Linked DNA regions of Homo sapiens: regions 2 and 3 are each linked to region 1. Evidence: fine-mapped expression QTL. A gene starts in region 1. Each other region holds a variant in brackets. All regions are shown on one strand. Distances are between the middles of the regions.

Region 1 (10,540 bases):
CCGCCTCCAGCATGGGGGGGCTGCCGAATGCAAGGCAGGCATCCGGCTGCCGACAGCTTGTCTTCTCTTCAGGGTGTTGCTGGGGCCTAGCCACTGGGGTGCAGGGCAGGGTTCCAGTCCTGGCTCTGGGAAAGGCCGAGCTCATTAATCCACTGTGGGCTCCGTCACTGCTGCAGGAGGGACAGTACAGTACATTCTCTCCTGTCTTAAAGAAGTTGCTACAGATGGGAAATCCCAGAGCACAGGCCTGAGGATTTCTGCCAGCCTTGAGGGTTGGGCCTGGCTAAGCAAGTGCCCAGGACGGAGTCCGTCCGTCCAGGCATCAGCAGTCATTCGTTCCTGTGCCAGGCTGGGGGATAGAGCAGCATCCCACCCTTGATGGGGCAGGCTGAGCCTAGTGGGGCAGGCCCTACACCAACAACCCACAGGATGCACGTTGGCCAAGACCTGCTGCACACAGGAAGTGCAGGGCGGCCGCTGACCCTTGTCCACTCTGCAAGCTGGAGGATTAGCCCATTTCACAGTTGAGGCCAGGCCCCAGGGAGCACCTGCCAAAAATTAAAGGGACCCAGCCTGAGAGGGAACAAAGGGACCCAGCCTGAGAGGGAACACAGGAGCCTGGCCCCGAGGCTCCCCAACCCCTGTGCCTCTAGCTGTCATCTGTATTCCTTTCAGCAACTCAGGGTGCCTTGGGGGACACCCCCAGGTAGGTAGCGTGGCTGTTTAGTTCCAGGTAGCAGTGAGGCCTTGCCCTGAAGGGACCACATGTCAGCATGTGGCGTGCTGGGATGGGGCCAAGACCGGGCAGCCAGGCCCCAGAGGTTCGGGTTTGCAGTCTTAGAGCATCTCAGGATGGTTAGGGCCCCTGTGACCCCAGCTTCTCACTTGTGAGGAGCTTGAAGGGATTTGGGGGCCTTCTCAGTCGCCGAACCCAGCCTCTGTATCTGGAAACAACTTGAGCACGTGGGGAGGGCAGAATTCCTGCAAAGCAGCCTTCAGAGAACAGACGGCCCAGCACTGTGTGGGATGGAGAGGTGTACCCCACTTAAAGGGGACAGCCGTGGAGCCTCAGTGCTGGCTTCAGTGTTTAATTGAAATGTAACTAAGGTTACTTAATACACACAAGCATACAACTAGAAAGCCCCTTATGTTCTTGTTCTTACACAACTAAAACTAACACGTACAGCTTAAATACAACCAAAGCCAAAAACCGCGGACAGCGTCACCATTAATCACTGCTTTGCTGAGGCTCCTTGCCTTATGGAGTGCATGAACACTCAGGGTTGCTAGAGTGCTCCGCCTGCCTGTGCCCGCCTGTGCGAGAGGGCTCACCTTTTCCTTTCAGGGCCTCGGAGTGGTATGTGAGAGGGAACTTACTCTATTAGGGGAATTGGCTCACTTGGTGATAGAGGCTGAGAAGTCCCATGATAGGCTGCAAGCTGCAGAACCAGGAGAGCTGGGGACAGACCTCAGCCCAAGGACAAAGAGCCAAGAGCCTGGGGTGGGGGTGGGGTGGTGGGCAGCAAGTCCCAGAGGCCAGAGAACCTGGAGCTCTGATGCCCGATGGCAGGAAAAGAGCAACCTAGCTCCAGAAGAAAGAAACCTGAGTCCCCATTTCCTTAGCTTTTTATTCCACCAGGGCCCCTGCCCATCTGATGGTGCTCACCTGCAACCACGGCTCTCACGCCGGTCACCTCTGGAAGCACAGACTCACTGGGGCGGCCTGGCCATTCGAATCAAGTACCAAGCCGCCTGGGTTTCCCTTCCAGCACTGAGAATACGTAATGTGTCCCCGGGCGTCTGGGTATCCCCGAATCCAATCAAGTTGACACCTGAGTCACCTGCCACTCAGTGGGGAAAGCAGGCCTGGGGTGCCTGAATCACCAGACTGCGCTGCCGGTGAATGGTGGATCTGGCGTTCTCACGCCCGAGCCTCATGGGCAGCTGTGTCATTGTCATTTTGTTCCAGATCAGGTCAGAACAGAACAATGTGGCCACTGATTGATTTTCTCTTCCTCTCCTCCCTCCACAGACCGCGGCCTTCAGTGTCACAGCGTGGCCTTGCTTGTCTGCCACAGCGGGAGCTAAGCCGGCCCTGGGCCAGCACTCCGAGAGGTGGAAGGGGCCCTGCCAGCTCTGGGGAGCAGCAGCCTTGGGCTGTTCTGAGCTTTAGGCAAGAGAAGAGAAGCATCTCTTGCATCCGTGCCCCTGGGGGCCTCTTCAGCTTTGCAGTGGTTTGTGGGAAGACATACCTCCCAGAGGGGCATGGACTGCCACCAGGACTGACCCTGGCGTCGGGGAGAAGGACACTTGCAGAGCCTTGAGATCACCTGTTTGGCAGGTCCTGGACTGGGGCCGGGCAGGCAGGGGCAGGGAGGCGCCCCGGGTGGGCTTTGGGGCTGCGGCACTGCCACACATCCTTTCCCTCCTGGCCTGCCCTGCTGGGGCTCTACTGCCATCTATAGATGGTGTCCTGGGCCTGGGAAACTAGGTTCCCAGGGGTTGAGACCAGAAAGGTGACCAAGACAGATTTTTTAAGGTGCAGAAACTGCAGGGGGGCCTCAGTGACATCCATGAGGCCTTATTAGCAAAGGACACCCAGACCTCCAAGGTTTGTGGGCCCCTTCCACAAAGCTGTAAGTCCCAGCCCACCTACTCAGGGCCTTGCTCAGTGCTGTGGCCCGGTGGGGACACAGTTGCTCGTGGCCACTCAGTGGAGCTGGGCCTGCAGCAGACTCAAGGCTCCGAGTGCCCTGGGGGTCACCCCTCCCCTCCCCTCCTCAGAGCCCACCCTGAGAGGCAGCAGTGACCCCCATGGCACACACCTGCCAACAGCACTGGGGGCTTCTCCCCAGGAGACCACGCTGCCCTCCAAGACCAGGAGCAGCTGTGAGCTGGAGACAGCAGAGGGACCCCAGGGTGTCCCCTGCAGATCCCACCAGGGCCGCATCCATCTCAGTGTGGAGGACAGTGACGGGACCCTCACCATCCTCTTGCGTTTTGGCCCCCATTTGCTCCCTGAGCTCCAAGATAAGAATGGCCCCGAGAGAACTGCTGAACATTTGTTCATTGCTGTCACCTCCTGAGTCACTGGGGTCCCTCACCAGCACCTCCCTGACACCTGGGCTATGGAGAGGTTGGCGCCTGTCAGTGACCATCCTAATGCCTCTCGCTCACTCCCAAGCCACCATTTGAGAGGGAGGGGTGTTGGTGCCCTGACAGGGACTGGGCAGGGTGTCCAAACTTGGGGCTTCCCAGGCACCTGCAGTGTGAACACTGCTTGGCTGGCTCAAGATTAGGGCCGCGGAGGGGGCTGTGCACATACCAGTTACTTAAGCAGCCACGAGTGTCCCCCATGCCTTGGTGCGGGTCCTGGAGGCCTCTTGGGGGTGGGACCTTTGGGCAGGGTTTGCCCACTGACACGCCCGCCATGGGGCACTGGCTGCATGGGGCTCCTTGGACCCTGTAGACCCAGCAGACCCCGCCTGTGTCAGGCCAGCTGCCCGAAGGCACTTGGCTGTGGTCCCAGGGGACGGCTCTGCTGGCACACTCAGGAGCCTGGCCGCGGGGACTGCAGGGAGGGTGCCTGGACCCGTGGGGTTGCTTCATTGAGATAAAGCACACTTATCACATAGCACAAAGGACGTGCCATGGTGCTTTCCCCAAAAGTTGTGTTGCTTTTATCAGTTTTCTAACTTAATAAAAAGAGTTGAGAAAATTCTTTGCCTGCCTTGTGTGCTGGGATCAGTCTTGGAGACATTGCTGGTGGCTGACTTTGGTCTTGTCCCACCAGCCAAGGCTCAAGGCCTGCCTGCTGGCATCTGCCCCTCTCATGAGCTGGGAAGGGGGAACCCACCCAGATGAGAGGTCTCCCCATTCCTGTGCCTCCTGAAGTTGCTTTAGAAGCCATGAAGTTGATTCCGTGGAGAGTCCTGATCCTGTCTGCCCCTCCTGAGAGTGATTCTCTCCTGGAAACTCTGGTAAATAGAAGTTGGGAATGTAATTCCATCCATTCGAAAAGGCAGAACCTCCAGTTGATGCTCCTTTGTCTGAAAATAACCCGAGCGCCATTCAGAGGGGCGAAATGGCTCCAGGAGGCAGCTTCACGGCCGCAGCGCCAGCTCACGGCACCGTTGCGCCCACTGGTTGCACCGTGGGCCCTGGGCTACCTGCCCTCCTTGTGCGTTTTCATAGTCACCATGAACCTCATGAGCTCAAGCGTATGCTCACGGGTAAACATCGTGTTCTGTGTTTTGTGATCTCACCTTCAGGCGCCCCTCAGACAGCGGGCAGCCCGAGAAGGTCATGCCGTGGCGCAGCCTGCGTGCAGGGTGGCTCTGCTGTGAACAGGAACCCGGAGGTGCCCCAGCACGGTGGCTCTCAGCAGTGGCTTCCGTGGTGCTCAGTGGTGTGCTGGCCCACAAAATCCAAATAGCGCCTTCACAGTGTAAGAAGTGCTTCTGATGCTGGCGTAGGGGCATGACGCCAGATTCCTTAGAAAATGGAATGATCTTGAGCGGGTGTGTCTCAGAGGTGAGTATGGTGCGTGTAGAAGAGCCAAGAGCACAGAGGGCCTCGTCCCTCCCCCTGCCCAGAGGTGCAGCCCTGGGAGGGGCATCCTGGGACTCTGCCTCGCACTGTCTGCTCCTGTAGCAGTGGTGGGGACCACAGGTGAACGCTACCACTTCCACACAGGCCTGAGCGCTTCACTCTGGGCATCCAAAGCCAGGAGTTGGCTCCAGCTAGAGTCCAGACAGCAGCAGAGGTGAAGTTCCCTGTCACACAGTCACAGGGTGAGTGTGAGCCAGCTGTGGCCCACAGGGCTCCAACTCTCTCCCCCTCTCTCCCTCTCTCTCCAACTCCCACCCCCTCTCTCCCTGCCCTGCCGTCTTCCATGCAAGGCAGCGGTTTCCTGGTCCACCCTGGCCTTCGCAGCCCCGGCCATCCCATCTGCATTCCAGCCAGTGGAAAGGGGAGGAGAGAAAGTGATGGGCAAGCCTGTTTTAAGGGCATGTCCCAGAAGTTGCACCATAACTTCTCCATTTTCCCAACAGCTAGAACTCAGTCACATCCACGCCTGACTGCGAGCGGGACTGGAAAGTGCCCCGAGGAAACTCCAGGACTCCAACGCCAAGTAAAGGGAGCGTAGATATTAGACAGGTAGCAGCCTCTTCCTCTACATGCTGGGTCAGGGGTTGGAAGGAACCTGGGCACACCGCCCTGCCTCCCGCTTCTCTGGGAGCATGCAGAGCCGTCATCTGCCAAGATCCTGGCTCTTGTCAAACCCTTCTTGTCAAGCAGTTGTCAAGCCCACTGGCCAGTGCTTTGCATAACTACCTCCTTTAACCCTCACAGTGACCCCCGGAGGTAGACATTCTTGTCCTCTTCTTGCTGATGAAGAAATGGGTCCACAGGTCACAGTAACTTGCCCAATGTCTCATGCTGGAAAGAGGAGGAGGAGGAGGAGGAAAAAACACGGTTGCAACTGACAGAATGTGGATTTGGAGCTAGGCCCACCTGAGTTTGGGTTCAAGCTCTCACGTGTGGCTCTCATGTATGTGCAAGCTTGGTTAAACCACTTGATTCTCTGATACAGACTTAATGATAGTAGGGTTAAAAGTTGAGGTCAAATTCTATAAAGCACTAAACACCAGGACCAATGCCCAGATAGCCCTTTACAGGGGGAGAATGGCCGCCACATTACAGCAGTGGAACTGGGATTTGAAACCAAGCCATATGCTACATTGTGGGGGCTGGGGGCTGGGAGCAGTGTTGCTTCCAGTCATTGCCCAGCAGGCCTAGCTCCATGTTCCTTGGCCTCCCAGGGGTCAGACTGAGTCTGGGATGGGGCTTGGGGAAGGGAGAAGGCGCCTTCCCCATCAGTGATGGGGCAAGGTCTCCCTGGAAACCTCGGTCCCAAGATGGCCAGTGGAGCTTTCCTGGGTTGTGCCTGATGCAGGAAAGAAAACGGGCCATCTTGGAGGCTTTGGCATCCTGAGAGCCTGCCTGGGGGGACTGTCAAGTTGCCAAGGGCAAGGAGAGGGTAGCCAACTGCCTCCTCCACCTGGCTGCTCAGCCAGGTCTCCCTGCCTTCAAAGGACATTTCTTTGGTCAGGAATTGACAAGAATGAGCCCAGAGTCATCCACCCCAAGGGTGTGTGGCAACCATCCCTTGCTCAACACCGAAGGCTGTAGAATCATAGTGGGGAAAGAAGCAACTTCTTCAGAAGCAGTTGTCTAATGAGCACAGCTTGGAAAGAGCCTTGGTTCTTCTGGATCATCACTGGGGGGATATTTCGCAGAGCAAGAAACTTGCATGCCCCGTCCATCATGTCCCAGCCCCGGCCCCAGGCCCAGCCCCGATGGATCTGCCCGGCCTCTCTCCTTCAGGAGGTGGGAATGGTCTCTTCCAACTTGAAGAGGCCATGAAGGTGATCGGCCCCCCAGCTGCTCTTCTTCCCTCAGGCCCAACCCTACCTGACCTGCAGCTTGGCCCGCCCATGGCACCTGCAGAGGTTCAGGCCCTGCCCAGGGAGCCAGGGTGATTTGGGTGAATTTCCCAGAACGGGCACAGTATTGTCCTGCATCTTCCCTTGCCTTGTTGGGCTTTGGGATGTGGCTCTGCCTCATTAAAGGTCAAGGAAAAGCCTAGAATAGGCCGGAGGCTTCTTAACTTGGGATTTGGGATCAAATTCAGGGGGTCCATGCACTTGGGTGGGAGAAGAATGACACCTTTGTTTTCACTAACCTCTGACTGAGGTTAGTGATCAAGTGATCCGCCCACCTCGGCCTCCCAAAGTGCTGGGATTACAGGTGAGAGCCACCTTGCCTAGCCCCAGTCACTGTTGAGGTCACCATTTTAAAGCTGAGGAAACATGCTCAGCATGGCAGCAGAAGCTCTGGCAGTTTCTGTGTGTCTGGCCCCAGCTGCCCAGGCCCCCTGAACCTGAGGGGCCTTGCTCTGGCCCTGGGGTTGGCCTGGGTTTGGCACCTGGCGCTCGGGCCCCTGAGGGCTTGCAGTAGGGGAGCAGTGGCTTTTTTGAGTTGAATTTAGTAGGGCTGGACTCCTTTCCTGTCCTTTCTGCAGGTAAAGGAGATGAGCAGCGTTGCTCTGGTACGCAGAGAAGCTTCCAGACACTCCTGGGTTGCACGATAGATTAAGTAATTCTACTGATGGGCACCAGCTCCATGCCAGGACCCAGGGCTCCAAAGCCATTTCCAGGTAGACTCATCACAGCTTCTCCACTCAGCTTGCAGGGATGGTGGGGAACCAGGGAGGATGGGAGCAAGAGACACATCCTGCCAAGCCCACCCTGTGGTGGCTCTACCAGCGTCGGGACCGCAGAGGGAACAGGATGGCACAGTCTCATCCTGACACGTGCATGCAGGATAAATGCAGGCTCTGAGAGCGAGTGCCACGGATGACTCCTCCATGGCCGCACTTTCTTCACATTGGCTCCTGTGAGCTTCCTCAACGCTTTCGAAGCTGGCCCCGCTTCTGTCCACTCTGCAGAGTGAACGTTGAGGTACTCTGTGTCTCTCATCTGTACAACCCTAACTAGGGCTTCATCCAAGACTGTCGAGGAGCAGGTCCTGTCTCTCCCTCTCTCCATCTCCCCACTTCCCATGGAAAATAGTGAGATTTTTAAAATGGGAGTTGAGGCCATACCGAAAAGCCAGCACTGTTAAATGCAGCTGTGACATTTGCCTGAGAGAGGTGGCCGGGGTGTGGGGGGGCGGGGTTTCAGCTCCCAGTCTGCCCTCCAAGCTGGTGTTGCCAGCTGTGGCTGCCTTTCCTGTAGGCCTGCGAGGTCCCTGCCATGCCTGTCTCCTCCTCCCAGCAGTAGTGTGAGCTCTGCTCCGGGATCAAGGCCAGATCTTTGCAGCCCATGTGCTTGGCTCCCTCAGCTGAGCCTCAGGACGTGGGTCCTCAGTTTGTGCTGTGCAGCGTGAGGGGCCACACTGCAGTCAAGCCAGCTGGGTGCAAACAGCAGCTTTTCTTCTACTTGGTGGCCCTCCTTGGGAAGGTCCCTCTGCTCCTGTAACTTCATTTCCTCATTGATAACAAAGAAAAAAACAGATCATATTGCCTGTTGTAAGGATTGAACTAAATCGGGTAAAGAGGCTACTAGATTTCTGTCAATGATGTCCATTTCCTTTGCCCCATATACGTTTCCAACTTAAGAGAGAGAGTGTGTGTGTGTGAAAATTAACTAGAAAGAAAGTATTCCAGCTTTCTGGGGAGTTGAAGGCAATTTCAGTAAAAATGTATGTTTCTGGCCGGGCACGGTGGCTCATACCTGTAATCCCAGCAGTTTGGGAGGCTAAAGCAAGTGGATCACTGGAGGTCAGGAGTTCGAGACCAGCCTGGCCAACATGGTGAAACCCCCGTGGTGGCAGGCGCTTGTATTCCCAGCTACTCAGGAGGCTGAGGCAGGAGAATCGCTTGAACCCTGGAGGCAGAGGTTGTAGTAAGCCGAGATTGCACCACTGCCCCTCCAGCCAGGGTGACAGAGTTTGACTCTGTCTCAAAACAATAAACAACAACAAAAAGTTTCCCTTTTAGCTGTGGCTGCCAGGAAGCCCAGAGCCCACCAGGAGGTTCCTCACAGAGGCGGGTCGTCCCTCCTGTTGGCACAAGTGCTTTGTCCTCCTTCCATGGCTTGGAATTGTATGAGCCACCCCAGAGAAATGGTTACTGCAATCACAGGGTTCAAAGGACCTTAACTTCTGCTTGGAAAGCGTGCAGAGTCTTAAAAAACTTTGTGACTTCCTGATTTTCAGACTTTTCTCTTCAGGAGGCTGATCACCTCCAGGAAGATTGATTTCCTGTGTTGTTGGTGGGGACAGTCACCCCCAGGTCCAAGCCTCAGTGTGATGACTGAAAGAAGAGTGTTCTGGTCGGGTGCTTTGCTCAGTGCATGCTGAGCCCGGAGGGTCAGGCCATGGCTTAGCAGATCTTCCCCCGGCGACCTAGAATGTCACTGGGCATGAGCTGCGTTTGTCCAGGCTTGTCTGAGCTGGAGTCAGGGCTAGTGGGTGAGGAGATGTTTCTCTCGCTTCCCAGGTAAAAGCCAGGGCTTCAAATGCTTGTGGTGATGGAGAAAGAGCAGGAAGACACCAGGGCCACCTTCCTTGGGGGGAAGTAGTCTGGCACACAGGGCTTCCACCACAGAGAGGAGCTTTGTGATGGGGCCCCAGGCTGGGCAAGTCCTGAGGAACTCCTCTGGGATCTGGGGATGCGCTTTCCCAGAACCGTGCCTCTGCCCATGCCTGTTCCCCCCTTGCTTCCTCAATCACCCTTCTTTCATTTCACAAAAGAAAGTTATCTCTCGCCCCTCCTGAAACTCATTATGGTGCACTGCTCAGGGTGTAAAAACATCTGGGGCACCAAATGGACGTGTTAAGGTTGGGCAGCATGAGGGAAAGGTGGATTGCAAAGCATAGGGTTGTTAAACAGGGCAGTGCCTTTTGGAATTCAATTGACAAGCACATGACAAGATTCCATATCTTTGTGTGTCCATCTGCTCACCTGCCTGTCCATCCACCCATGCATCCACCCATCTACCCACCCATCCACTCACCCATCCACCTGCCCATGCACCCACTCATTAACCTACCCACCATTCATTCATCCACCCATCCACCCATCCACTTGTCCATCCATCCATCCATCCATCCCATCTACTCATTCATCTTACCTCCCTCCCTCCCCATTATTAAGTCATAATTCAGAAGTGAGATAGTTGTCACTAAAAATTTTTAGTTGTCAACTAAATAACATTTTAATTTAAATTTAAAAGCAATCAAACTTTTTTAATGGAAATTGAATTCTGAATTGGCCAATCAGTTTGCCAAGAAGTACTGGCTTTGCTAATGAGGTCACATGGTGGGTATTTTCTGTAAGTTGAACAACTTAAGGCTTTAGCCCTAAATATATTTGAAGCATGAAAATAATGCCCCAGATTATATACTTTGTAGCAGTTACACTTGTGATACCGTTTGAGAGCTAGACATAAGCCATGTGAAGGGTATATGGTTGTTCGCATTTGTTGTAGGAGGACACATGAACCAAAAGTGCCGATCAGTGGCTGTGTCTTCCCTCCAGAAGCCAGCACAGAGCTTGGGCGTGGGACTTAGCTGGATTTCCTCTCTGCCTTTTGGGGTGAGATACGGCTGATGCCTTGATGTGGAGGAGGAAGCAGCGGCATCGAGCCCATGCCCACAGTTGGCCTGAGGCCCACTCAGCACCTGGTGCCAACCCAGGGCAGTGAGAGGAGGTAGGAATTCCAGGAATGAGCCGGCTGGCCCTGGGCTGGTTCCAACAGGCTCCCTGCCCTGGCAGAGGCTCCAAATCTGAGCTTCCTTCCAGAGGAGGCCAGGCCAGGTGCAGCGATGGGGTTGGGAGTCTAAGGTAGGGACAGGAAGGGGTGACCCTGTAACCTGAAACAGTCCTATGAAAGTGGCCATTTTCCATTTGAAGGTCCCTCATCCCCAGGGAAAGCCCGTGGCCTAGGGGCGGCCACCTGTGAACTAGCTG
Region 2 (9,524 bases), 73 kb before region 1:
CCACACCCGGCCTGGACAAGTTTTAAGACCTTCGAGGTGGAAGCTCAAGCTGCCTTTATGAGAGTCTTTTGGAGATTCTAGCAGTGAGTGAGGGCCTTCAAACACTGAACAAGCTACATTGGCCCAGACGTCAGCAGCACATCATTCTTCAGGTGGCCCCTTTTGTGGTGATAATGACAAGAAAACTGTGACTAGTGCACAGGTGGAAACCAGAACCAGAAAGGAAAAAGGGGTGGGCATTGTCTGGGGTTGCAACTGACAGAGTGGGTATGTGTGTGAGGCTCCCTCTGAGATCTCCCATGAATGAGTGAAGACCCTTGAAGGCTAATGTTCTTGTCTAGGGGGATGAGTGGCTCGGAACCTGCAATTTGGGCACAAGGGTAAGTGTGACTTCATTTTGCAATCACCACCAGATGGACAGATGAGATCCAGGGAATGGGGAAGTTTGGGGCTGGGAACTCACATGATGAGGCTGCTCAAGGCATCTGCAGAATAACCCTGAGGCTGTAGGTGTTGGGCTATTCCGAACTCCCTCTCTGGGAGGTTTTCATCCATGAAGGTAGGGCCTGAGAAAGGATACAAATGTGCAGAGCTGAGAGTTTGCAAAGCAAGGTTGAGTTCAGAAAAAATATCCTGGCCGGGCACAGTGGCTCATGCCTGTAATCCAGCACTTTGGGAGGCGAAGGCGGGCGAATCTCTTGAGCTCAGGAGTTCAAGACCACCCTGGGCAACATGGTGAAACCATGCCTCTACTAAAATACAAAAAATTAGCTGGGCATGGTGGTGCACGCCTGTAGTCCCAGCTACTCGGGAGGCTGAGGCATGAGAATCATTTGAGCCCTGCAGGTGGAGGCCGCGGTGAGCCGAGATCATGCCACTGCACTCCAGCCTGGGCAACAGAGAGAGATTCCATCTCAAAAACAAACAAGAAAGAAAGAAAAGAAAAGAAAAAATATCCCAGACAGACTCAATCCAAGTTCCTAGCCGTGTGGCCTTGGAGAAGTCACTCTCTGAGCCTCAGATGTTTCATCTGTAAGACAGAAATATTCTCTCTTCCTCAGGACAAACAAGGGGAGAGGTCTATTTATCCAGCAAAACCCTCCACCCTGCCACAACCCCCACCTCCCCCATAACCTTTCTCCAGGAAATGATATTCAAAAAACAAAGTCTTCCAGCTCCGACAAGGCCCCAGAGCAGAATCACCAGTTCACTGGACAATAACCTCAGTGACGTGATTTTTCCTCCCAGAACATATGGCAAGTGGGCCAGAGCTGGAGAAGTGGGAGCAGCCGCTGCAGAGGCCGGTCTTGAGAATGTCCTCATTTTGCAGCTGACCAACAGCTTCCCCTGGCATGTACAGGCAGGAGCAGCCCCTCTCCTTTCTAGCTGGGAGGAGAATGCCCACAGGCTTAGAGCAGCTATGCCAAAGCCCATCTTGGCCATTGGCAACACCCCACCCACCCACAGGGGTGCCAGAGGACTTCTCCCTGAGCACCAGGTCCAGGTGCCATGTGGCATTCTCTGGGTAGACACCGGCTCTCCCAGCCTCTCCGCCCACCTGCCCCTTCCCCATGAGGACACTGGCCACCCTCCTTCCCCTTCCTGTTCTGTCTTCCACTCCCTCTGGCTTCATAGACACCGCCAGGGCTTGTTCTCCTCCATCTCGGTCAGGCACTATGCCCTGAGGTTGGCACTAAATGGTGGGGGAGTCAGACCACCTCCAGAGCCCCTGCACGGTGGCCCAGAGTATGTGAACAAGGTGCTTTCCTGGAAGAACATCTCCCTTAAAAAGGTCACTCATACCAAAACTTGGGCATTCTTTTTACATTTTATAGAAAAGAAAAAGGATGACGGGCTTGGTGGCTTATGCCTATAATCCCAGTACATTGGGAAGCCGAGGCGGGCGGATCACTTGAGGTCAGGAGTTCGAGACCAGCCTGGCCAACATGGCAAAACCCCGTCTCTACTAAAAATATAAAAATTAGCCTGATATGGTAGTGCGTGCCTGTAATCTCAGCTACTCAGGAGGCTGAGGCAGGAGAATCACTTGAACATGGGAGGTGGAGGTTGCAGTGAACCAAAATCACATCCCTGGAAATCAAAAAAACAAAAAAAGAAAAGGAAAAGGAGGCACCATTCAATTCAGCGTGAATTTATCAAGCATCTCCTCCATGCCAGGAACTCTCTGGACACTAAGGATGCTGTAAGTGACATTCCCTGACCTCATGGAGCCCAAGGAGATTAAATGACCCCTATAACCTAAGGCAGTTTTTCAAATGTCTTCAAGCCTCCTGATGTGTACAAAAGGTAAAAACCCTGGTACCTCTGGTGGAAGAAGCCAGAGCGATCACTGTTTCTCACCCCAGGACTCCGGGAAGTTCTCAAATCACCATGCGGGGTCTCCTGCAAGATCTTGAAAAGTAATAACAGCTAGTGTGTATTAAACACTTCTTAGGGGCCAGGCACTCTTCTAAAAACATTAGCACCTGAACTCTCAGAACAAACCCATCATGTAGGAACTATGATCCCCATTTTACAGATGGAAAGGAGATCACAGAGAAGGAAGTCACTTGCCACAAGGGCTGACTCCAGGGCCCATGACTTGTGTTCTCACCTGGCCTAGCTGCTGCACAGAGCTCCTCACAAGCCGTGAAGAGCAGCGCCAGGAAGCCCCACCGCATCACCTCCATTCTGATGATGATGGTGGTGATGGTGGTGGCAGTGGTGATGAGGTAACTCTTAGTTCCTTTATTTCCTGCAGAGAATGGCTGGTTCCTCTAAATGGCTTGGTGATTGTTTTGTTTGTTGGGTGTTTTTGAGAAAGGGTCTGACTCTGTCACCCAGGCTGTAGTGCAGTGATGAAATCGCAACTCACTGCAGCCTTGATCTCCCAGGCTCCAGCAATCCTCCCACCTAAGCCTCCCAAGCAGCTAGGACAACAGGTGTGTGCCACCACACCCAGCTAATTTTTCTATTTTTTGTAGAGACACAGTTTCACTATGTTACCCAGGCTGGTGTCGAAATCCTGAGCTCACATAATCCTCCCGCCTCCCAAAGTGCTGGGATTACAGGCGTGAGACACCACGCCCAGCCTAATTTTTCTTAATGTACATTTTCATTTTACCAGTGCTATTGTAAGTGCTTTTTGCTGTAACACATTTCTAATACATTTTAAGCAAATGCGGCATTAATTTTGAAGGAATGATCCTTTCTTGTGAAGACCCTTATTCAGCCATTCCCAGGAGGGAGGAGGGACAAAGAGAGACTGAGAGACAGAGAGTGCAGGCGTTCGCAGACAGGAGACAGAATAAGAGAACATTTGCTAAAGAAATGACCCAGGCACTCAGTAAATGTTAGAAGACACGCGAGGGGCTTTTCCAGCGGTCAGTCCTGGCTGTGAATCTCAGTCCCACCCTGTGCCAGATGACATGTCGGACCAACTACATAAATCCTCCGAGCCTTGGTTACCTTGTCTGCAAAGCAAAAGATCTCATTGGGGTTTTCTCCCACATTAAAGGAAACAACCCCACTTTGCACAAAACCTGGAACAGAATAGGAATGCAGTGTGTGCCTTATTCAACCCCTTCTGGACCCTGAGTACAAGACTGAGAATGTCAGCAGAGGGCGCTGGCTGGTCTGGGTCCCTCAATCTGGGAAGCGTGCAGTGTGGATTCAGCGTGGATCCTCTGTCTTGTGGGTGGAGGGCTGAGGACTTTAAACCATGGTCAGATTCCCCCGCCTGTGGGCACTGTGCTGGGGACGGAAAACAGAGCTCTCTGAAGGTGCAATTACACGTCATTTGCATATCTTATAGAGAACAGATGCTCCTTTCCATCGGGAAACATTCCCATATGGTCTGGCCTTGTCGCAATTTCCAACAAGGGCTGGTTTTAAGTTTTGCAATTAAAGGTGTCCCTTGGCCACAGCCAGAAAACAAACTGAGTTTTCATTGAGCCCTGGAGGTGCCTTTGTTTTGCCTCTGACAAGAAGGAAGCCAGCCCTCTGGGCCCCAGGGCCCTGCCAGCTCTCCCTGAGGTCCCCAATTGAGGGAAGGGTTGGGGCCTTCCCTTTAAGGGTGGCTGGCAGTCCCAAAAAAAAGGCTGCGCTAGGGGGATTGGGAAGGGAATGGGAGGGAGATGAGATTAGAGGACAGGGCTAGGGCTGTCAGAATGAACTTCAGGAGACTTTTCCTCCAGCATCTCACATCCTCACTTTTCTCTACCCTAACCCTCTAGACCCCCATCTTCCATCTTTCCTCCTCTCTACCCTCAGGACACATACAGCCCCCAGGTCATAAACCCTCTTCAGATGAAACACACAGGTGGCATCATCGCTCTGCCAGCTGGCCAGGTCCTCCCTTGTGCGGCATCCTCAGGCCCCCCAGCAGCCCTGCATGATAAGGGGCTCTAGGCAGCCTCCACCCTCGGGTCCAGCCTTCTCCACTTGCCTGGCCCAGCTCTTGCCCCTCCAAGGCCTTCAGCTTGCTGTTCCTTTCCTATTCCATCCTTGCCTCACTACTACTTGAATCTGATCCATGCTTTTATCTCCCTGATCAAGTCTGATTTCCTCTCGGCCAGGACTCCCCCTGGCCCTCCCAGTAATGCATCCACAAGTAACAGCAGCAACCCTTGGCCCCATTCCCCTCAGCCCCTGGTGCTTTCCTGCCTCCTAGAAACTGTTCCCACAAACTGCCATCCTAGCCAGCTCTACCTCCCTGGAGAGAGCTGATCCTTGGGCATCCCATACATATGATTTTCCACCGGTGGCCATAGGAGGATGCACGTTCACCTCCTGTCCTGCTGCTCTGTCCTCTCTGGGCAACTTCTATGTCCCCAAGCTATCTCTTGTTTCAGAGAGTCCCCTCCCAAGTAGCATTCCAGGTCTCCCCTGAACTACTGTCCTCCATCATGTGTTTATCTCCAGTGTCCCAATCCATCAGGACCTCGCATGGGCTCTGAATCCATTAACTGGCTGTGTGACCTGGAAACCAACTTATCCTCTCTGAACCGCAGGTTCCTTAAATGTAACTTGGGAGTGCTAATGTCCAATCCTTTTTTTTTTTTTTTTGAGATAGAGTCTCACTGTCACCCAGGCTGGAGTGCAATGGCGCAATCTCGGCTCACTGCAACCTCCACCTCCTGGGTTTAAGTGATTCTACTGTGTCAGCCTCCTGAGTAGCTGGGATTACAGATGCACCACCGCGCCCAGCTAATTTTTATATTTTTAGTAGAGTCAGGGTTTCACCATGTTGGTCAGGCTGGTCTCAAACTCCTGACCTCAAGTGATCCGCCTGCCTCAGCCTCCCAAAGTGCTGGGATTACAGGCATCAGCCACCACTCCCAACCATGCCCACATCATTTGCTGCTGTGATGATGTCATGAGATGACAAACAGAAACATCTCCTTCCTCCTTCCTCAGTGGTGGTAACTCTCCAGGGTGGGGTGAGAGGACTAGGACAGACTCCCCACCGTCCCCACAAGTGACTGCCTCTGCCTCAGGCCAGATGACCCTGACTCAACCCTGCAAGTTGCAGGAAAGCTGAGCCTAGTCTCTCTCTCCAAGAACCTGGTCCCAAAGAGAAATAGTTCCTGCTGCCAGGGTTCCATGGCTTTCCACAGGTGACCTGTAAGGTCAACTATCTTGAGCCGATAGTATGAGCCGCCATACTATATGGTGGCTCATTTAGAGCCTGTAGCAGCTGGATGGAGACTGCCCACAAAGAACAGGTCAATTTGGTCCATCTTTGCCTTTAGTAGTTGCTTAACAGATGATTTTTGTGGACTTAAACCAACCACCCTGATCGGAACCACACCTTTGTTCCCTTTTCCTAGATGAAAAAAAATGGGATTCTTTGCTATGGCACCTACATGGAGGCCACCTGAGGGGCTCTGGCCAGGAATCCAGGTGTTGAGTCCTTCAGAGTTGTTACCTGGGAGCCACAACCATGAAGCATGTCTGTCCTTTTACAGGTCTCTTAAAACCACCTTCCAAACAGCCACTTCCAAAGTCATACAGCCATTAGGAGAGCTGACTGCACTGATTTTTACCCTTTGTGCTACTGATGTCAGAGGCACAGTAAGCAGATTAGAACAGGGGCGAGATGCTACCTTCTGGCACTTCCTGCCAAAATTTGCCTACAGCACATGGATGGCTGTTTAGAGGTAAGCTAAAAAATCTGGTGGAAAGTGCCTGGAGTCATTTGGGATTTTGAAAACATAAGTCGGCCATGTGTCACTGACACTGCTGGTTGCCTACTTAACATGCGTTTCTCACCCACCCTCCTTTCCTCTTTCGATTCAGAACAGCATCTGCCCTCCTGTGCTCAGCTTTGTGTTTCACAAGGGGTTGATCACAGCCCCAGCCCAAGGGCTGAATCCTCATAGGTCCAAGCCAATCATGGGTTCCCAAACCCTTTGTTGGTAATTGGTTTAGATAAGGGTATGTGACATTGTGACATAGATTTCTTTTTTCTTTTTTTTTTTTTTTTTTTTTGAGAC[G/A]GAGTCTTGCTCTGTCGCCCAGGCTGGAGTGCAGTGGCACAATCTTGGCTCACTGCAACCTCTGCCTCCCAGGTTCAAGCAATTCTCCTGCCTCAGCCTCCCGAGTAGCTGAGATTACAGGTGCCCATCACCACACCCGCCTAATTTTTGTATTTTTAGTAGAGATGGGGTTTCACCATATCGATCAGGCTAGTCTTGAACTCCTGACCTCGTGATCCGCCCGCCTCGGCCTCCCAAAGTGCTGGCATTACAGGCATGAGCCACTGCACCCGGCCTAATTTTCTGTCATTATAAGCCACCCAGTTTGTGGTAATTTGTTACAGCAGCCCCAGGAAACAAAAATACCCTCTGTCTCCAGCCTCTACCCTCTTTGTTGTGTTGGCTTCTCTTTTTCTTCTGGCTATGGACCAACCCCTGTACTCCCTAAACCACAAAGCTGCCAACAGCTTGCATATTTGACACCTGTCAATCAAGCTTCCAGAAAGAAAAACAGTACCCTCTGTTTTCCAAATCCAGTTCTCCATGAAATAACTTTGATTGGCCTAGCTTGACTTGCAAGCTAAATTTGGTCCAATCAACTGTGCCCAGTGGCAGACTGGCATTGAACCAAGATGGCAACTCCTAAAGTAGCCATATGGATGGGAACAGAAGATACAGGGAAATTTCTAGAGTAACAAGTGTCCGCTCCAGTTATCTTTAAATAGTTACTCCATAAACACTGGCTTCCCTGGACCATGTTAATCTTTTATATTTTCAGGTATATCTATCGATAAACAGTGAGGCAAAGATAAAGAAAAAATATGGATCTTAAAAAGCCAGATATCTCAGCTGATCAGTGAAAGTCTTTGAAAAGGATGTAATGGACACCAGTACTCTTAGAAGTAATAATGGCATAATTTATAAAGTAAATAATTTGATTGTCCCTACTCCAGCTGTCTGCGTGGAAAAGTGAATTGAGGGAATCCAGCCCCGTGCAAAAGGGCTAACAGGAGCAGCCAAATAGGGCCAGGTGCGGCAGCTTACGCCTGTAATCCCAGCACTTTGGGAGGCTGAGATGGGCAAATTACTTGAGGTCAGGAGTTCTAGACCAGCCTAGCCAACATGGTGAAAACCCATCTCTACTAAAAATACAAAAATTAGCTGGGCATGGTGGTGGGTGCCTGTAATCCCAGCTACTCGGGAGGCTGAGGCAGGAGAATCTCTCAAACCCAGGAGGCAGAGGGTGCAGTGAGCCGAGATTGCACCACTGCACTCCAGCCTGGGTATCAAAATGAGACTCTGTCTCAAAAAAAAAAAAAAAAAAAAAAAACACTCTGATAAAGAGCTGAATAGATACAAATAAATAACCCAAATATACTCTTGTTTGTCTTAGAGACAGTAAGCTAAATCTGATCAGAAATGACTGAAGCAAGTCCAGAGATGCCGACAGATTAGTACTTCTACACAGGCAGTTCTTGTGTGCTGAGGGATGAGATACTTGCAGCAACTTTGTGGCCATTCTCTTAGACCACTGAGTAATAGGCTGTGCTGATAACGACTCATAAAACCTTCAGACACAAATTTTGTAATTGCACCATTATTACAAATTGTATTGTCTGACATTCCAGGTTTCTTGTAAATAACTGATGTAAAGCCTCAATCATTAAAGGGGAGGTTTGAGATAGGATCAAAACTATCTTAGTTCTTTTTGAAAACGTCTCTTGCAGTCAAATTATTCCCCAGGAACGTTTCTGTACTATCAGCATGTTTTAAAAAAAAATCTAGATCACTTCTTTTTTTGAGAAAGGGTCTTGCTCTGTCATCCAGGCTGGAATGCAGTAGCGCAAACATGACTCACTGCAGCTTTGACCTCCCTGGGCTCAGGTGATCCCCCCACTTCAGCCTCTTGAGTAGCTGGGACTACAAGTACACACCACCTCGCCCGGCTAATTTTTCTATTTTTTGTAGAGATGGAGTTTTGCCTTGTCCTGAGCTCAAGGAATCAACCACCTCATCCTCCCAAAGTGCTGGGATTACAGGTGTGAGCCACTGCACCTGGCCATAAGTTCCCTCAGGGGTTTTTCTCAAGTTGCCTACAATAATCATAAATACAGCCTTTTCAGTGGCAGACTTATTCTATGGTCCATGATGGTTTACTGAAAACATAGGTTCCTTCCTGTCAATAACTTTCCATTATACTGTTATAATATAGCCAAGATAATATGGTAAAAATATGTTGACATGATAAATTTTTCCAATAAAATGCATCCTTTGCATGCAGACAATTCATACTTATTAGTAAATAAATTTCACTCTTTGGGCAGTTTCTGTCTAGGTCACCCCTTCAATACCAAGTTTAAGGCACAAGCTGATCTAGCATCACACAGGCAATAAACAAAAAACTATATTGTATCTTCTCTTCAACAGAGAATGAGGTAAGGCTCCCAGGATCCGCATGTCCTGTAAAGCTGACAAGGAGCATGTAGTGTGAGGGCACTTAGTGGGCAGTAGTCATTGAGCTCTTCAAGGATTCCCCAAGAGAACACAGGAGTTGGGTTGGAAGGGAAGACTCCCACAATTCCTAAAACAGTGCTGTAGTTCAAGGATAGTTTTATTCTTAGAAGAGTCCCTAGAAAGTCAAATGATAGCTTGTCGGAAGGATTTAAGGAACTAATAATCCACATGAAGTGCTTAGCACAGCACCCGATGTGTGATAAGCATTCAGTATATGTTAGCTAGTCTTGTGATTTGAAGTGGCGGTAGGATTTCTTAACATCCATGATAACTGTTGGGGCTTCCATCTTGGTATCTGTGCAGCTGCATTCTGTGAGTGACAGTGTTCTTGGGTGGAAGCAGCTGGTACCTAATGGCCATCTGGCACTCTGTGGCCAAGCACAACTCCAGCCCTATAGGGTGGAGCGATTACATCAATAAATAGTGGCTGCATTCACAAAATCCATGGGCCCTGTCTGGGAAGCCAAAAACCTGCTTGACAGCCTGTGCTCTTGTTACAGTAGGTAGCTAGCCAGCCATGAGCAGGGCAGGAGA
Region 3 (5,000 bases), 760 kb after region 1:
AATACCACCTCTCACAGTCAGATTGATGAATGCACCACAAAGCACTCTCACATGCTCCTTATGAAATAAAAATCTGACCACAAGGCAGGGTAAAGTAGTGCATGCCTATAATCCCAGCCACTCAGGGATTTTTTAATTACAAAATTTCATCACATTTTCCTGGAGGGCAATTTAACAATATTTATCGTGAGCTTTTAAAAGTTAATCGTGTAATATTATGAACTACTGAGACATGAAACATAGATGAATCCCAAAAACATAACGCTTAGGGAAAGAAGTCTTATATAAAAGTACATACACTGGGCGTGGTAGCTCACACCTGTAATCCCAACACTTTGGGAAGCTGAGGCAGGAGGACTGCTTGAGCCCAGGAGTTTGAGACCAGCCTGAGCAATATAATGAGACCCTGTCTCTACAAAAAAAATTTTTTTAATTAGCCAGGAGTGGTGGTGCGTACCTGTAGTCCCAGCTACCCAGGAGGTTGAGGTGGGAGGAGGATCAGTTGAGCCAGGGAAGTCAAGGCTGCAGTTAACTATGATCACAGCACTGCACTCCAGTCTAGGCAACAGAGGGAGACCCTGCCTCAGAAAAAAAAAAAAAGGTACATACTGTGTAACTCCACTTATATTAAAATTAGAACAGGCAAAACTAATCTGTGGTAAGAAAAAAATCAGAAGGGTGGTTGCAAGAAGAGATTGTCCAATAAGGAGCATAATGAAACTTTCTGGAATGAAAATAATGTTCTATAACTTCATAGAGGTTTGGATTACGCAGATATATGTATGCGTTTGTCAAAACTCAGCAAATATACACTAAATATTTGTGCATTTCACTGTGTGTAAATGTTGCTTCAAAAGGAAAAAACCTAAGCAAATATCAAATTCATGCTGAAATATTTAAGGGGAAGTATAGTATACTAACATTTACAATTGCTTTTTCTCTCTTTTTTTTTTTTGAGACAGAGTTTCGCCCTTGTTGCCCAGGCTGGAGTGCAATGGTGTGATCTCAGCTCACTGCAGCCTCTGCCTCCTGGGTTCAAGCGATTCTCCTGCCTCAGCCTCTAGTAGCTAGGATTATAGGCACCTGCCACCATGCCCAGCTAATTTTTTGTATTTTTAGTAGAGACAGGGTTTCACCATGTTGGTCAGGTCTTGAACTCCTGACCTCAGGTGATCCACCTGCCTCAGCCTCCCAAAGTGCTGGGATTACAGGCGTGAGCCACCGCTCCCGTCCTCACTTGCAATTACTTTAAAATATATCAAAGAAAAAGGAGTATGATAGGTAGAAGAATGGATACATGGATATATGTGATAAAGCAAGTACAGTAAAATGCTAATGTAAAATACAGGCATTGGGTACACAGGGGTACCCTGTGAAAAATCCTTCAAGATTGCTGTATTTTGAGATTTTTCATAAAATGTTAAAAATACTAAAAAACAGTAAACAGCCACAAGGCAGCCTTCTGGAATGCTGGAAATGTTCTGTCTTGATTTGGCTGGTGATTACATGGGAGCATGAGGAAAATTCATCAAGCTGTACACTTAGGGATTTTGTACACCTTGGCTGATTACATTTATAACTCAATAAAAAGTGTTTTTAATACAGCAATCAGAATAGGACTTTAAAGTGAGTGTAATTAATATCCTCAAAGAGATAAGGAAGTATGCTGCAACCATAAAACATGAATAAGCAATTAAGAAAAAAGAGCAAACCATAGACTGAAGACAAAAACTCAAATTTAAAAACTCAGTGGGCTAAAGAGCTGAGTAGACCTTGAGGAATGAATTCGTGACTTAAAATATTGAGCTAAAAAATCCTCCCAGAAGATAGCACAGAGAGGGGAAGTAAAAGAAAAGTGAAGAGACACGGAGGACAGATCAAGATGCGTCTCAATCTATCTTTTGGAGGGAGCTGCAGAAGAGAAAATGAGAAAACTTAAGGGGACAACATTTAAATAAATAATAGTTAAATGTTTCCTAGAACTAAAAAACAAAACTGCTTAAAAAATATTTTTGTTTTTTGCTTTTTAAGAGACAGGGTCTCACTCTGTCACCCAGGTTGGAGTGCAGTGGCACAATCATAGCTCACTGCAACCTCAAACTCCCAGCCTCAAGCAATCCTCCCACCTCAGTCTAAGTAGCTGGGATTACAGGTGTGCACCACCATGCCCAGCTAATTTATTTATTATTATTTTTTTTTATAGAGAATGGGGGTCTTACTATGTTTCCCAAGCTGTTCTCAAACTCCTGGCCTCACGTGATTCTCCCATCTTGTCCTCCCAAAAGTGCTGGGATTTACAGGCATGAGCCACTACGCCCAGCCCAAAAAAGTTTTTAATTATAGTTATTTAAAGCAATCTACATGGATGGAAGGAAACACACCACCATTTTAAGAGACATTATCTCCTGACTGTGCAATTTAAGTGATTGTACAATTTAAGTGATCCTTGTTCTTTTTTTTTTTTTTTTTTTTTTTGAGATGGAGTCTCG[C/T]TCTGTCGCCCAGGCTGGACTGCAGTGGCGCGATTTCGGCTCACTACAAACTCTGCCTCCTGGGTTCATGCCATTCTCCTGCCTCAGCCTCCCAAGTAGCTGGGACTACAGGCACCTGCCACCACACCCGGCTAATTTTTTGTATTTTTAGAAGAGACGGGGTTTCACCGTGTTAGCCAGGATGGTCTTGATCTCCTGACCTTGTGATCCGCCCGCCTTGGCCTCCCAAAGTGCTGGGATTACAGGCATGAGCCACCACGCCCAGCCGATCCTTGTTCTTTTCTATATGTTTCAAGTTTTCTACAATGAATATGACTTTTACAATCAGGAAAAGTAAAAGTTTATTTTTATAAGATGAACTCAGAACCAAAAGACAAGAAAGGTTTTTTAAAAACTCCCTAAATTCGCTTTCCTGTGACTTCTCCCTTATGCTATTACAGTGAACCTGTTTCTGTAAGTGGTCACCACAAACTTGAACAAGTCATTCAATCTCTGAATTTCTGCTTCTTTAGGCCTTAAACAGGGAAAATAAAATCCCTCCTTTCCACCTCCCCATGGTTTGGGGAACATCAAATGAGATGAGGTACAAAAATAGCATTTGGTAAACCATAAAGCACTGTACAAATTGTGGCATGTTATCACAGTCCTTCTAAGCTGGTAAACCCCAACCTCTGAGTCACCCTCCACTCTCCGCCCTTTCACTCACCAAGTCCAATTTGTCACTAGTCAGTTTTTCCTTCTCTCATTCCCTCCTCTCCCAAACTACTGCACTAAGTTAGTCATACCTGGTCATACCTTGTGCCTGAACCACTGCAATAGGTCCTGCATAGTGCCCCACCTCTAGCTGTCCCTCACCCCACCTACTGCAATTTTTGCCTGAAACCTAATCTTCATGAAACATGTTTATCCTTTGACTACCCCGCTGAAAATGAAATGCCTTTGGGAGTTCTCTGAGGTTTATAGGATGGACTTCAAACTCCTCAACCTGGCTTTTAGACCTCCCGTCCTATCTCTGGTCAGCCTCCTCATAATTGGAACATGCACCCAACCCCCGTACCCTTCCTTCCCCTTATCCAGAGATATATTTTCCACTTATCCACATCCTCCCAGTCTTTTAAGCCCAGGTCAAACCTCTCCCTCCTTTCCTCTTTCTATACCTTATGACCAATCCAGACCAAGCTCTTGCCTCCACAATCCATCCCCCAAGGTGCCATCATCACTTCCAGGTCAGAGACCTACCCCACCTTTCCAGAAAGGACTAATTGTTCCCTGAGAGCAGGGCCTGTTATCCTCCTACAGCCTCTATATTAGGCACTCAAATTAACATGCTAAACATTTAAGTCCTTAAAATAAACTTTATTTGCCTGAACTGATTTTATGGTAAGTTTTAACACCTATGTGTGTATTACTATATATTGTTTAGCTATTAATCTTTTTTTTGTTGTTAGAGATGGGGTCTTGCTATGTTGTCCAGGCTGATCTCAAACTCCTGGCCTCAAGTAATCCTCCTGCCTCGGCCTCCCAAAGTGCTGGGATTACAGGTGTGAGCCACCACTCCCAGCCTATCAATCTTTAAATAAAAAGAATCATAACTTACAGATTTTTTGATGGCTTCTTCTTTCTCTCCACTGAGATTTATCAAAGTTAATATCTAAAACTATAATCCATTTTTCACAGCTGTGAAGTATTCCTTTCTTTGAACATATCATAACTTTTTTATCCATTATGTTGTTAATGGACATTTGGGTTTTACAGGAAAGTTTGGAATTAAAAGTAATGCTGCTCTGAAAATTCTCGTACATGTTTCCAGTAAAGATATATAAGAGTTTCTAGAAGAGAAGCTGCTATGTCACAGGGTCACATATTCAACTCTACCTGGCAATGACAATGGGTTTTTCCCTAGTAGTTGAACTAATTTACACCTCTACTTAATGTTGAGCAGTTCCTCAAAATACTGCCAACCTTTTAAATGTCTGCCAATTTGATGAGTATAAAATGTTATTTCATTGTGGGTTTAATTTGCATTTCCCCAATGAGGTTGAAAACCTTTTCATATAGTTATTAGCTATTTGGTTTCCTCTTAGTGCTGTGCCTGTCCCAACCTTTTCCAATTTTTCAACTGGGCGGTTGTTTTCTTATTGACTTTTAGGACCTCTCTGAATACTAATCCTTTATTGGTACTATGCATTGCAAATGTCTTCTTCCAGTCTGCCGCTTTCCTTTTCACTCTCTTTTGATGAGAAGTTCTTTATTTTAACGTAGTTGAATTTATCAACCATTTCCTTTATGTAAATGCCTTGTGTAACTTGCTTAATCAGTCCTTCCCTACCCAGAGGTCATAATGTTTATATTTCCTTTTAATAAAAAAGTATTAAAATAAAAACTTTAAAAAGACAGCAATACAGTAAATGAACAACAAGCACACGGAAAAAGTACTCAAAATCATCAGCCATCAAGGAAATACAAATCAAAACCACAATGAGATACCACTACACACCCACCAGAATGGCT

Evidence for each region. PIP is the estimated chance that this variant, and not a neighbour inherited with it, causes the effect.
Region 2: its variant is fine-mapped to the expression of LINC02883 in sun-exposed skin (GTEx, PIP above 0.99).
Region 3: its variant is fine-mapped to the expression of LINC02883 in esophagus mucosa (GTEx, PIP 0.98).

The regions. Positions count from the first base shown.
Region 1 is chr15:85,752,504-85,763,043 of GRCh38, reverse strand. It overlaps LINC02883 (long intergenic non-protein coding RNA 2883), which reads left to right and starts at 4,319. Exons shown (of 6, transcript NR_120366.1): 1 at 4,319-4,533; 2 at 4,696-4,793; 3 at 5,055-5,160; 4 at 7,088-7,222; 5 at 7,389-7,526; 6 at 7,803-8,103. KLHL25 (kelch like family member 25) reads left to right here. Exons shown (of 3, transcript NM_022480.4): 3 at 2,033-3,718. RefSeq lists enhancers at 391-1,124, 1,941-2,442.
Region 2 is chr15:85,825,805-85,835,328 of GRCh38, reverse strand. No RefSeq gene overlaps it. Among named protein-coding and RNA genes, the nearest start is that of MIR548AP, 4.9 kb to the right of the region's middle. The variant G/A (reference allele first, on the strand shown) is at 6,498.
Region 3 is chr15:84,990,918-84,995,917 of GRCh38, reverse strand. The region is part of intron 1 of PDE8A (phosphodiesterase 8A); the gene reads right to left. Among named protein-coding and RNA genes, the nearest start is that of PDE8A, 12 kb to the right of the region's middle. RefSeq lists a silencer at 3,026-3,320. The variant C/T (reference allele first, on the strand shown) is at 2,490.